Linked DNA regions of Homo sapiens. The protein of the gene in region 1 interacts with the protein of each later gene in a biochemical or structural test. Each region holds a gene or a part of one and is shown in the gene's direction. Other genes may lie near its edges.

Evidence for each region. Proteins that work in one complex are often made in the same cells at the same time.
Region 2: of the proteins of AMER1 (region 1) and SRPK2, one has a biochemical effect on the other in vitro, tested with the Homo sapiens proteins (one large-scale study listed by BioGRID).

What each region holds. Positions count from the first base shown.
Region 1 is NC_000023.11:64,188,709-64,192,208, reverse strand, and holds part of AMER1 (APC membrane recruitment protein 1), read left to right. Parts: coding exon 1-2,330; 3' UTR 2,331-3,500. UniProt on the Homo sapiens protein: Regulator of the canonical Wnt signaling pathway.
Region 2 is NC_000007.14:105,130,422-105,133,921, reverse strand, and holds part of SRPK2 (SRSF protein kinase 2), read left to right. Parts: exon of another isoform or gene 1-817; coding exon 818-918; exon of another isoform or gene 919-1,023; coding exon 1,024-1,131; exon of another isoform or gene 1,132-2,155; intron 2,156-3,500. UniProt on the Homo sapiens protein: Serine/arginine-rich protein-specific kinase which specifically phosphorylates its substrates at serine residues located in regions rich in arginine/serine dipeptides, known as RS domains and is involved in the phosphorylation of SR splicing factors and the regulation of splicing.

The sequences.
Region 1 (3,500 bases):
CCTGCCTGGTGACCTACCAAGGAGGTGGGGAGGAGATGGCCTTGCCAGATGATGATGACGAGGAGGAAGAAGAGGAAGAAGAGGTGGAATTAGAGGAGGAAGAAGAGGAGGTTAAGGAGGAGGAAGAAGATGATGACTTAGAATATCTGTGGGAAACTGCCCAAATGTATCCACGGCCCAATATGAACCTGGGCTACCATCCCACCACATCCCCAGGCCACCACGGCTACATGCTCCTTGACCCAGTTAGGTCTTATCCTGGCCTAGCCCCTGGGGAACTTTTGACTCCTCAGAGTGACCAGCAAGAATCCGCCCCCAATAGTGATGAAGGTTATTATGACTCCACCACACCTGGATTTGAGGATGATTCAGGTGAGGCCCTGGGGCTTGTCCGCAGGGATTGTCTACCCCGAGACAGCTACAGTGGAGATGCCCTATATGAGTTCTATGAGCCAGATGACAGCCTTGAGAACTCTCCACCTGGAGATGACTGCCTTTATGACCTCCATGGTCGAAGCTCTGAGATGTTTGACCCCTTCTTAAACTTTGAGCCCTTTTTGTCCTCCCGGCCACCTGGGGCAATGGAGACAGAGGAAGAACGGCTAGTGACCATCCAGAAACAGTTGTTGTATTGGGAGCTTCGGCGGGAGCAGCTTGAGGCCCAGGAGGCACGTGCCCGAGAAGCTCATGCCAGGGAGGCCCACGCCAGGGAGGCCTATACTCGAGAGGCTTATGGCAGGGAAGCCTATGCCAGGGAGGCCCACACTTGGGAAGCTCATGGCAGGGAGGCCAGAACCCGAGAAGCCCAGGCCCGAGAGGTTCGTTGTAGAGAGACTCAAGTCCGAGAGACCCAGGCCCGGCAGGAGAAGCCCGTCTTAGAGTATCAGATGAGGCCCTTAGGCCCATCAGTGATGGGCCTGGCAGCAGGGGTATCAGGGACCTCTCAGATTTCCCACCGGGGAATTACCTCAGCTTTCCCCACCACTGCAAGCAGCGAGCCAGACTGGAGGGACTTCCGTCCTCTGGAGAAGCGTTATGAAGGAACCTGCTCCAAGAAAGATCAAAGTACCTGCCTGATGCAGCTCTTCCAGAGTGATGCCATGTTTGAGCCAGACATGCAAGAAGCAAATTTTGGAGGATCTCCCAGGAGGGCCTACCCTACTTATTCACCCCCTGAAGATCCAGAGGAAGAGGAGGTTGAGAAGGAAGGGAATGCCACTGTGAGTTTCTCACAGGCCCTGGTAGAGTTCACCAGCAATGGGAACCTCTTTTCCAGCATGTCCTGCAGCTCTGACTCTGACTCATCTTTCACTCAAAACCTCCCTGAGCTGCCTCCCATGGTGACCTTTGACATCGCTGATGTGGAACGGGATGGGGAAGGCAAGTGTGAAGAGAATCCTGAGTTCCACAATGATGAAGATCTTGCAGCCTCCTTGGAAGCCTTTGAGCTGGGCTACTATCACAAACATGCCTTCAACAACTACCATAGTCGATTCTACCAAGGCCTGCCCTGGGGTGTGAGCAGCCTCCCTCGATACTTGGGACTGCCTGGCCTGCACCCTCGACCTCCACCTGCTGCTATGGCCCTCAACAGGAGAAGCCGCTCTCTCGACACTGCAGAGACCCTGGAGATGGAGCTCTCCAATTCCCACTTGGTCCAGGGCTACCTCGAGTCTGATGAGCTGCAGGCCCAGCAGGAAGATTCAGATGAGGAGGACGAAGAGGAGGAAGAAGGAGAATGGAGCCGAGACAGTCCCCTTTCCCTCTATACTGAACCCCCAGGGGCCTATGATTGGCCTGCTTGGGCTCCCTGTCCTCTTCCAGTGGGGCCAGGTCCTGCCTGGATAAGCCCCAACCAGTTGGACAGGCCTTCCAGCCAGTCTCCATATAGGCAGGCAACCTGTTGCATACCTCCTATGACCATGTCAATATCACTATCAGTGCCAGAGTCAAGGGCACCTGGGGAATCTGGGCCTCAACTAGCTCGTCCCTCACACCTACACCTGCCCATGGGCCCTTGCTATAACCTCCAGCCACAGGCCTCCCAGAGCATGAGGGCCAGGCCTCGAGATGTGCTGCTGCCTGTTGATGAGCCCAGTTGCTCTTCCAGTTCTGGAGGCTTCAGCCCCAGCCCTCTACCACAGGCCAAGCCTGTGGGCATCACCCATGGCATTCCTCAGCTGCCCAGGGTCCGGCCTGAGCACCCCCAGCCTCAGCCCACTCACTATGGGCCTTCCAGCCTTGACCTGTCAAAGGAGAGGGCTGAGCAAGGTGCCTCTCTTGCCACCAGCTACTCCTCCACTGCCATGAATGGAAACCTAGCCAAGTAGTTATTATCAATTCTGGAGTAGGGACACGGGGCCTGAGCATGTGAATGGGGATCAGGGGTTGGGCAGAAGGGTGGGGGGGTGGGGGTTGTTGTTTAACTTGAAAACCCTTTGGGCCAAGGAAAACTCCTGTGAGTTTTCACCTTGGTTTTCCCACTTGCCTCTTCTGCCATCTATGGCCACGTTCAACTCAAGTGCATCTGCCCAGGGAGGCTGCTGCTGCTACTGCACTCCAGTTTTTGCTTTCGAGGTTTCTTCTTGTGACCCACGCTGGGTTTGGGATGCTGTAATTTTGTGCCTATTCCAGTTGCCAAGTTAGTGATTATATATATATATATATATATATATATATATATATATATATATACACACACACACACACACACACACACACACATACATACACACACACACACAAACACACATGCACACACATATATAGCATGCATCCTTGACACAGGCTAAACCTTTAGTGCCCCCTGCCCCTTTCCCCCAATGAATGATGAACCACTGATTAGCAGCCAAGTCTGCATTGCCTCCCGCTTGGGGAAGTGGGGCTTATTTGCTATTAGCAATGTGAAATTATGGTACAGATCCTCCCCACCCCTATTCCTTTTGGCCTGGCATAGCTGCCATCATTATATCAGATGACTATAAGCTATTCATCCCAGCTAGCTGTCCTTAGAGAGGATCAAGTAGCGTGTGTCTCACAGCCTATCGCTGTGGACTTTGGCATCATGACCAGATGGGGGCCTTTTAACTGTCCTGCCATAGCTTGGGTTAAAGACAAAAATGCTAATCCCCTTGATGGAGTGATAAAATTCATCCATTTGCAAACAGAAGACAAAACAAGGTTCTGTTGTGGACACTGCCATAGAGTGTTGAGCTCCGGAATGATAGGATTTTTTTTCCTTCTTTTAAGCTTGTGACTACCTGAGTTGCAGATGCTTTTGAATTTTTGTTCTTTTTTCCTCTAAAGGAAATTTTCATAATCTCATCACAAGGAACACGGTCTTTTAATTGAGATAAGGGAAGAGAAGCAACCTAAATTAGGCTTGACTATAGGGGCTGGGGTTTTTGTGGAGTGTAGGGGAAAGATAGAAAATGAGGGTCCATTTATCACAGCCAGCAAGAAAGGGGATTTCAGACCATGCAGAGCTTAAGGTATCTCAG
Region 2 (3,500 bases), on another chromosome or scaffold:
GATCTGAACTTGTTTGAGAAGATCTGGCCCCAGAATCTCTGGGAAGCTGGCCCTATACCTGCCTTTGAGATTCCCTGGAGTCATCCTGGAATTTAGAATGACTGCTCATGTACATGACAAGTTCATGACTGACCTCAGAGGTTGCCTTTATGGCCCAGGCCATCTCAGGAGACCTCTGTCTGGGACCTTCCTTGTCTAAAACAAAACCAGAATAGTTTAGTCCCTGCCTTTAATCTGTGTTTGTTAATCAACAGTCATCTACCCCTTGAGATCTGTGTGTGCTCAGCCCAAGCAGTGGGAACTGTAGGGGATGATGTGGGTGTGAGGTGTCGGTGCCAGGGACCCTGATGTCTTGTGGCGTCCAAGGAACTGTGTGTCACTGAGAGTGATCGGCCCCCACAGCAGTGTTCTTTCTACCTTCATGTTCCTTGTAATAATGCATCAGCAAGCTCGATCTGGGCCGTGAAGGGATGGATTGACACCATGAAGAGCCGCCACAAAGCTGCAGACAGGGGGACAGCAAGGCTGGCTTGTTCTAGGGCTGACCTGGACCCGAAGAAACTGGGGATAAAAAGAGAAAGGTCAAGGCAGTGCCCTTGGCGTCCTGTGGGCAGCCCAGTTTGCTCTTTTCTGGAGTATTTTCCAGAGGTGGAGAACAAGCAATTTTAGTTCTGTCAAGTTTAATTTACAGTATTCCAGGCCTAAGTGATCATTCCACTACTCTTGAGGAAAGGAGACTGACCCTGGCAAACACTGTGCTCACACATGCAAACCACCTATCCCGATCACTAACTGTCCTGCTGTTTGCTCATGCCAGCAAAAACCCGGGCAGCTGACTTGTTGGTGAATCCCCTGGATCCGCGGAATGCAGATAAAATTAGAGTAAAAATTGCTGACCTGGGAAATGCTTGTTGGGTGGTAAGTAGAGTTTTCTTTCTAAAACCTTTGGTCTTGATTCTGTGTGCGAAGACACTTTTTGAATGTCTGTGTTGCTCCGTGGTAATGCAGCCTGTTCCCTTCCAGCATAAACACTTCACGGAAGACATCCAGACGCGTCAGTACCGCTCCATAGAGGTTTTAATAGGAGCGGGGTACAGCACCCCTGCGGACATCTGGAGCACGGCGTGTATGGTAAGGACGGCTGTGCCCTTTGCTGCCATGGGAATTGGCTCGTTCCTTTCACACTCTGGATGGGGCTGAGTCTCTCTGAGGCATGCGACCTCAGTTTTTCTGACTGTAAGGGTCATCCACCGTGGGCTGGGTGAGGGGAAGGTTGCTGCCGCAGGCATCTTAAGAAGTGGAAGGATCCTCCTCAGGCGGGCCCTGGGTGTTTGGTGTGGTTGTGGGCTTGTGAGAGAGACATGGTCTCTTCTTAAGGCCCTGCACAGCCCACAGCCCCATGAATCAGACTCAGTTGTTGTGACACAGTGACTTCACTTGTGGTCCCTGAAAATGTGCAGGGTATAGGGAGCTTTTCCCTTCACTCACACTGTGGAGGAAGATGAGGTAGCATCTCCAGGGGAAGACTGCCTAAGGCGGGCAGGTGGGAGCCCCTCCAGGTAAGCCTCTGCCTGGTCAACCAGACATGCAGGGTTCCTCACCTTTCCAGACTGGAAGGGATTTCCCCAGATGCCAATGCATAATCTCTCTTCCCTTATAAAGCAAGAGCTAGCAGATATTCTGGCTTATTCTAGGATGTCTAGCCTCTTCTGAAACAGTGGCAGCAACGCCCACTCCCTCTGACAGAGTCTGTTCCCAGAGTGGTTGAGATGACGGCTTCCACAGGGCGGCAGAAGCCTCTTCTTCTATCTGTCAGGCCTGTTTTGCTGCTGGTTTTGTGCTGCACAGTTGCATTGTCTGTAAACTCCCCTGGCCCTGCCTGGCATCGTTTGGTCATTGACCCTGAACCTGTGAGTTGGTGAACACAAAGGGCCCTGCATTTGCGAGCCAGTTCCTGGTTCTCTTCCTCTGCCCTGTTTCCTGGCCCATTCAGCAGCTTTTTCTCAGTGGTATTTACTTAGGCGTTCCGTGTTGGGAAAGGTGGGTTGCTTGCTGTTGGGTTTCATGCTTTTCCTATTCCATACTGCTTTTTATCCATATTCTTCCAATATTTAAAAGAAAAGATTGTGTGCAAGGCTTAGCATTTTTCTTCTCACTGAAAAAAGGAATGCAGAATAAATATATTAATTTTCTGTTATTCAGAGGTTAATTTAACAATTTTCTTGAATTTACTGTGTTTTACCTCCTCTAATGCTCAAGTAAAAGCATTGTTGAGCAGATAGTGCCAGCTGATAGGAGAAAAAGAGGGTGCTTTCTGTCTTTCAGCTTTGACTCAGCATGATCTGAGTCAGCACATGGCCAGATAGGTCCTGAAACACCAGGCCTTTCTATTCCCTCGTTGCTCTTAAGGATAATACCAGACAATAACGTTTAAATTATTAAAGGTATTAAAGTTCTTCCATATCAAAAACCAAGTCCCTGCCTTAGCTAGGTATAGAAAAGAACGGTTAAAAGAACCGGTGGCCAATGATGGTCACTTTGAATTTAGAGAGTGCTGTGTGGAGAGGCATTTGACCCTCTCTGTGTGACCCCAGCAGGCAGACTGAGACGTGGGAGTTAGTGTAACGGGAGCTGCGGAGACACTGAGTGGGAGTCGGGGAGCAGGGGCCATTTCAGGATGTGGGGAGGTTAGACCACAATGGCCACTAGCAGCAGGGCTGCCCCGAATTAGGCGCTAAGTACTCTTTGAACTCTGAAATGCTGTGCTTCTAATTTGGGGTATTAAGTTTGGTGATATAACCAGAAAAATAGGACGCAGTCACGGATGTAGTGGGTTAATGGAGCTTTCAGCACAATTTTATACCAGGTTATCTGACCTGCCTTCCATTAGATGAACGTTTGTCCCTCCATACAATTTCCCTGTCCTGCTTACTTCTTGAAATGCTATTGCTGTGAACAGTGGCATAAATATCAATAACAGATTCCCAAGGAAAAGCCTTTCTGTCTTCTCACCTGCCCCCTTCCCAAGAATTAAGCATAAGCTCCCTCAGTGCTGTCAGGACGGCTTATGAGGTTTGCTTTTTCAGTTGGTTGTCATAAGGGAGGTTTTTTTTTTTTTGGAAAGGGGCAGGCCCTCATTCACTGCTTGCCCCACCCCCCAAAAGTCATGGCTTTAGAGGTTTCTTTTGTTCCTCCTAGAGAACCTAGGAGCAATGAGGCAGTTTTTCTTACCTCATCGTTCTGTTGTAGTGTAAAAATAGGACATTTAATATATTAAATTTGACCTCATAATACCAAGCTGTCATAAGGCCACAGATGGTTCTTGGTGGTAAAGCCTATATATAGTCTTTGAGGGTTTTGTTTGTTTGTTTGGAGACAAGGTCTTGCTCTGTTCCCCAAGCTGAAGTGCAGTGGCAGGACTATAGTTCACTGCAGACTCCACTTCCCAAGCTCAAGTGATCCTCCCACCTCAGCCTCTGGTGTAGCTGGGACTACAGGCA